Linked DNA regions of Homo sapiens: region 2 is linked to region 1. The links come from fine-mapping of genetic effects on gene expression. A gene starts in region 1. The other region holds a variant in brackets. All regions are shown on one strand. Distances are from middle to middle.

Region 1 (2,897 bases):
AAAGGGGCAAAAACAGCCCTGCCCTTCTGGTGGCAAGGGGTGTGGGGCACCCTAAGGACGAGGGTACATCTGTGGGGCAAAGCACTCAATCCAGCTCTGCCCTGCGGTGGCTCAGGGATGGGGGCGTAGCGGCCAGGCGGTGTGGGGGCTGGGGAAGGTGTGAGAGACATGGGAAAATCAACACGGCCAGGAGCCAAGGAGACGCCCAGACGCCCGGGAGGAAAGAAAACACGCCCATCAGAGCTCAAGTCCTCCTGCACTGCTCCTGGTGGGGACGTGTGGGGTCAGGGCAACCGTCCCAGCCCATGCCAGCCCCCACGGGGGCCAAAACCGCCTTCCAAAGCATCCGCTAGGCTGACATCTCGTAATAGGTCCCCTCCATTTTATTTTTGTTTTTATTTATTTGTTTATTTTTTTGAGATGGAGTCTAGCTCTGCCACCCAGACTGGAGTGCAGTGGCGCGACCTCGGCTCACTGCAACCTCCGCCTCCCGGGTTCAAGCGATTCTCCTGCCTCAGCCTCCCGAGTAGCTGGGATTACAGGCACGCGCTACCACGCCCGGCTAATTTGTGTATTTTTAGTAGAGACGGGGTTTCATCATGTTGGTCAGGCTGGTCTCGAACTCCTGACCTCGTGATCCACCCGCCTCGGCCTCCCAAAGTGCTGGGATTACAGGCATGAGCCACCGCGCCTAGCTACGGGTCGCTTCCATTTTAGCCGTACAGAGCCTGAAACCCGGGTCGGGGGCGCATGGGGAGAAATATCCGCCGGTCAAGGTGCGCGAGCCAGGCATGCACACAGGGCTTCACGGTCCCTATGCCAGGAGAGGGAAGCCGAGGCAGGGGGAGCCCGAGCGCGCCCGGGAGGTGTGAGCTTTGGGTCCCATCGGCGCCGCCTAGACCGTGAGCTTGGCGCGTGCACCCCAGGCTTCAGTTTACGCATCTGTGCGATGGGATCGCGGCTCCGGCGATGCCGGCTAAGGGGGCGGAGTTCGCGCACGCTCGGCACGGGGCGAGGGGCGAGGCGCTGGGCGTGCATGGATGCGGGTTCCTGCGAACTGAGGTCCGCCCGGCCTCGGCCCGGGAGTCCCGGCTCCCGCCGCTCTCGCAGGCCCTGCCCGGACGCCGGGCGCAGGGGCGCCTCCGCCGGGTGCCTTCCCCGAGCGGGCAGGGGAGGAGGCGGCGGAGCGGAGGAGGAGGGAGCCCGGGCCGCGGCTGCCCGCGCCAGCCTGACCCTCGAAGGGGTCGCTGTTGCCTCGCAGATCCCTCCCTCGCTCCCTGCCTGCGTCCCTCCCTGCCGCTCCCGCCGCGTCCGCCTTTTGTTCGCGGAACCGCGCGCCCCCGAGCCGAGGCGGCGGGGCGGGGAGCTGGCGGGGCTGCGCGGGGGGCGGGCTGCGCCGGGCGGAGCCGGGGCCCGGGCCGCAGCCGGACTCGGAGCCCGAGGGAGCGATCGGCGTGCGGGCGGCGGGGGCCCGGGCGCGCTCCGGGGGCGCGGCGAGGCCGAGGGGGCGGGCGCCGGGCGGAGCCGCAGCCGGAGCCGGGGCGCCTGGAGGCGGTCGGGCCGCACTCTCCGAGCCCAGAGCAGCGGAGAGACCGCGCGGCGGGGCTTGGGACGGGGACGCGGTGTCGGGGCCGAGGTGGGCCGAGAGCAGCCGCAGCCCCAGCGGCCGGAGCCGCGCCGGGTCCCTCCCCAGGGACGTCGAGGCCGGGCGGGCCTGGGCCATGCGCGCAGCTCGCTGAGGCCGAGGGAGGCCGCGATGGAGGCGCCGGCGGCCGAGCCCCCGGTCCGGGGCTGCGGTCCCCAGCCCGCGCCTGCACCCGCGCCTGCCCCGGAGAGGAAAAAGAGCCACCGCGCGCCGTCGCCGGCCCGGCCCAAAGACGTGGCCGGCTGGTCGCTGGCTAAGGGCCGCCGCGGCCCAGGCCCGGGCTCAGCAGTCGCCTGCAGCGCCGCGTTCTCCTCACGGCCGGACAAGAAGGGGCGCGCAGTGGCTCCCGGGGCGCGCGGTGCGGGTGTGCGGGTGGCCGGGGTCCGCACCGGGGTCCGTGCCAAGGGCCGTCCGCGCTCGGGTGCGGGGCCGCGACCGCCACCGCCGCCCCCCAGCCTCACGGATAGCAGCTCGGAGGTGTCGGACTGCGCGTCGGAGGAGGCGCGCCTGCTGGGCCTGGAGCTGGCGCTGAGCAGCGACGCCGAGTCCGCGGCCGGGGGCCCGGCGGGGGTCCGTACGGGGCAGCCGGCCCAGCCCGCGCCCTCCGCGCAGCAGCCCCCGCGGCCGCCCGCCTCCCCGGACGAGCCGTCGGTGGCCGCGTCGTCGGTGGGCAGCAGCCGCTTGCCGCTCAGCGCCTCGCTTGCCTTCTCCGACCTCACCGAGGAGATGCTGGACTGCGGGCCCAGCGGCTTGGTGCGGGAGCTGGAGGAGCTGCGCTCGGAGAACGACTATCTCAAGGTGGGGGCGCCCGGGTAGAAAGGGAGGTCGCAGGGGTCGCCGGCTGTCACAGTCCCGCGGGCCTGAGGCACCAGCCGGCCCTCCTTCCCACTGAACAATCCGGAGAAAGGGGCCCAAGCCCTCTGGGGACCACTCTGAGGTGGATCTGGGGCTCCCTCATTCCCCCCGCCCCCTCTCAACTTTATTTGGGAAGCGCGCTCCTGAAAAAGACCTTGGAACTGGCTACAGGGCCCTAACCTGGGAGCGGGGACTTGAGAAAGCTTTGGAGCGTTCTGGGAGGCGTTGCTGAGGTGGGGGTGGGTAGCCAGGGAAGGGATGGATCTCTGCCTTCAGCTGCCCAGAACCTCCACGCCCAGGCTCTCCTTCTTGGGACGGGATTGATAGACACCGCCGCCAGGGAAACCTGTGGCCATCCCCTGCCCAGGAAAGGCCTGAATGCCATCCTGAGTCGTTA
Region 2 (2,897 bases), 77 kb after region 1:
GGCCCAGCCCAGCAGCACTTTTTTTTTTTTTTTTTTTTGAGATGGAGTCTCACTCTGTCCCCCAGGCTGGAGTGCAGTGATGTGATCTCGGCTCACTGCAACCTCCGCCTCCTGAGTTCAAGCCGTTCTGCTGCTTCGGTCTCCCAAGTAGCTGGGACTGCAGGAATGTGCCACCATGCCCGGGTAATTTTTGTATTTTGAGTAGAGATGGGGTTTCACCATGTTGGCCAGCCTGGTCTTGAACTCCTGACCTCAGGTGATCCACCTGCCATAGCCTCCCAAAGTGCTGGCATTACAGGTGTGAGCCACCATGGCCAGCTGTCCAGCAGCACTTTTTTTTTTTTTTTTTTTTTCAGATGGAGTCTTGCTCTTTCACCCAGGCTGGAGTGCAGTGGCACAATCTCAGCTCACTGCAACCTCCGCACCCTGGGTTTAAGCGATTCTCCTGCCCTAGCCTCCCGAGTAGCTGGGACTACAGGCGCATGCCACCATGCCCAGCTAATTTTTGTATTTTTAGTAGAGATGGGGTTTCACCATGTTGGCCAGGATGGTCTCGATCTCCTGACCTCGTGATCCACCTGCCTCAGCCTCCCAAAGTGCTAGGATTACAGGCATGAGCCACCGTGCCTGGCAGCAGCACTTTTGATCATTATTTCTGTTTATTGGTAATAGTAAAAAATTAGAAACTACCCAGATGTACATAAAAAGTGAATTGGGGCCAGGCACAGTGGCTCACACCTGCAATCCCACCACTTTGGAAGGCCGAGGCGGGCAGATCACTAGAGGTCAGGAGTTTGAGCCTGACCAACATGCTAAAATCCCCTCTCTACTAAAAATACAAAAATTAGCTAGGCATGGTGGCACACGCTTGTAATCTTAGCTACTTGGGAGGCTGAGGCACAAGAATCACTTGAATCCGTGAGGTGGAGGTTGTAGTGAGTCAAGATCGTACCACTGCACTCCAGCCTGGGGAACAGAGCAAGATTCTGTCTAAAAAATAAAAAAATAAAAAAAGCGAATTGGGTATATAAATCAGTTATTTCTATCTAGTGAAATGGTACAGAGACACTAAAAAAGAAGGCGATCAGCCAGGCATGGTGGCTCATGCCTTTGGGAGGCATGAGCACCCAAAGGTGCTAATTCCAGCAGTTTGGGAGGCTGAGGCAGGAGGATCGCTTGAGCCCAGGAGTTCAAGACCAGCCTGAGCAACATAGTGAGACCCTGTCTCAAACGAAAAAAAAGGATAAAAAGGAAGGAGATCTAGACATACCTAGTGACAGAAAAGTGTTCGTGTTTTACAGTTGCAAAATAAGCTGTCATTTTGGTAAATGTATGTTAAGAATCTCTTTGGCGTGCAGGACCATGGACAGTGTCCACTGTCCTCTCTGTATAGCCTAGAATATATTACAATGAACTTCCATTACCGCTCTAATGGGAGAAGAACAACAGAAAGAAAAAATTGGTCCAGTGAGGAGCTTCAGCCCCTGGGAACTGGTTTATGGCCGAGTCTCAGTTCCTTGCCTGGCATACCACACAGCTCATGGTGGTCCATGTCTCCTGGCTCCTCTTGACTTCCTGCCTCCCTGCCTCCCTCTTCCTAGGACGCTGTTTGTGACTGTAGTACCCAGTCTCTCACCTCCTGCTTCGCCCGATCGTCCCGCTCTGCCATCCGCCACTCTCCTTCCAAGTGCAGGCTGCACCCTTCAGAGTCCAGCTGGGGTGGGGAGGAGAGGGCA[C/A]TCCCCCCCAGCGAGTGACAGAGCAGCCAAGCTCCCCGCCTCAACCAGCCCAGCCCCTGGATAGCAGAAGGGAACCAGCAGAGACGAGACGAGGTGAGGCGAGGGGCTGTGTCCTCAGCATTGCCTGGCCCTGGAGGGACAGCAGTGATGCCACTGCCAGAATGCAGCTTTCACATCAAGGTAAAGCCGGGTCTCCTGCTGGCCCCTGGGTGGTGAGCTTCGACTTCCCAGGGGAAGGCAGTGAGTGGGAGAGAGACCAAACCTGGGCTTCCCAAGCATCCACTGAGAGATCTGTCAAGAGCCGATCCCTGGGTCCTAAGAGAGAGCCTTGCCTGGTTCTGCCCATGCCACCCTCTTGGAAGAGCCCAAGAAGGATACATGTCTGGCCATGCCTTTGGGGAAAAGGAGTCGGAGAGATGTTTCCTGCTGACCATCCACCCCTTCATTTGGGAGGAGACACTGCTGAGAAGAACAGGCTTTGCTCTAGGGCTCCATGTTTGGTTCCTGGTGGAGCCCTGTTGGGCATCATCACCATCACCTCCTTCTCTCCACCACCTCCTCCTCCCAGCCCCACTGCTCTAGATTGCTGGGACACTAGGGAGTATGATAGGGCAGTAGCCAGGGCCATTGCTTAGTGTCCTGGAGCCCTGGATCTCCCTGCCCATAGCCTGGATGCAGCAAGAGCTGGGAGGCGAAGTGGAAACATGCAGGGCTCAGGGTTGGGGAGTGATTGCAATTGCCTTCCTTGCCAAAGTGACTTGGGGCCCCAACGTTCCCAGCAGACCCCTTGAGGACAGAAATAGGTAGAGTCAGTCTCAAGACCTGGTGCATAGATAAATGCCTAAATACACTGCCTTGATCTCAAGTGATCTCAGAGGCCTCTTTCCCTGGCACCCTGAGAGGCAGCAGGCACTACATCTCCACTGTGTTTACATCCTGCAGCTGGTCGGGGGGCAAAGATATTCCCAGTAAGAGATTCTTGGTTGGCCAGGTCAGGCCCAGGAGAACACCAAGAGGCCAGAGCCCAGGACACAGCAGTAGACTGGGGCCTGGAAACACGTATCTTGCCTAGATTGTTTATTTGAATTTTTCCTACTATAAATATTTAAGGTGGTTTACTTTATTTTAATAATTTAATTTACCCCAAAGTCCCTAAGGTAA

Direction of the effects. Positions count from the first base shown, and alleles are read on the strand shown. Sizes are in standard deviations (SD) of each study's normalised expression.
In carriers of allele C in region 2, the expression in tibial nerve of the gene that starts at base 1,563 in region 1 tends to be lower than with A alone (small effect, 0.23 SD a copy in GTEx).

The links. PIP is the estimated chance that this variant, and not a neighbour inherited with it, causes the effect. A credible set is the group of variants that fine-mapping cannot tell apart.
Region 2: its variant is the best candidate, but not a certain one, in a credible set for the expression of MTCL2 in tibial nerve (GTEx, PIP 0.83).

Annotation. Positions count from the first base shown.
Region 1 is chr20:36,862,204-36,865,100 of GRCh38, reverse strand. It overlaps MTCL2 (microtubule crosslinking factor 2), which reads left to right and starts at 1,563. Exons shown (of 15, transcript NM_080627.4): 1 at 1,563-2,443. The coding sequence starts at 1,757. RefSeq lists silencers at 854-1,743, 1,814-1,963.
Region 2 is chr20:36,785,342-36,788,238 of GRCh38, reverse strand. It overlaps MTCL2 (microtubule crosslinking factor 2), which reads left to right. Exons shown (of 15, transcript NM_080627.4): 15 at 1,602-2,897. The coding sequence ends at 1,754. Among named protein-coding and RNA genes, the nearest start is that of DSN1, 13 kb to the right of the region's middle. The variant C/A (reference allele first, on the strand shown) is at 1,737.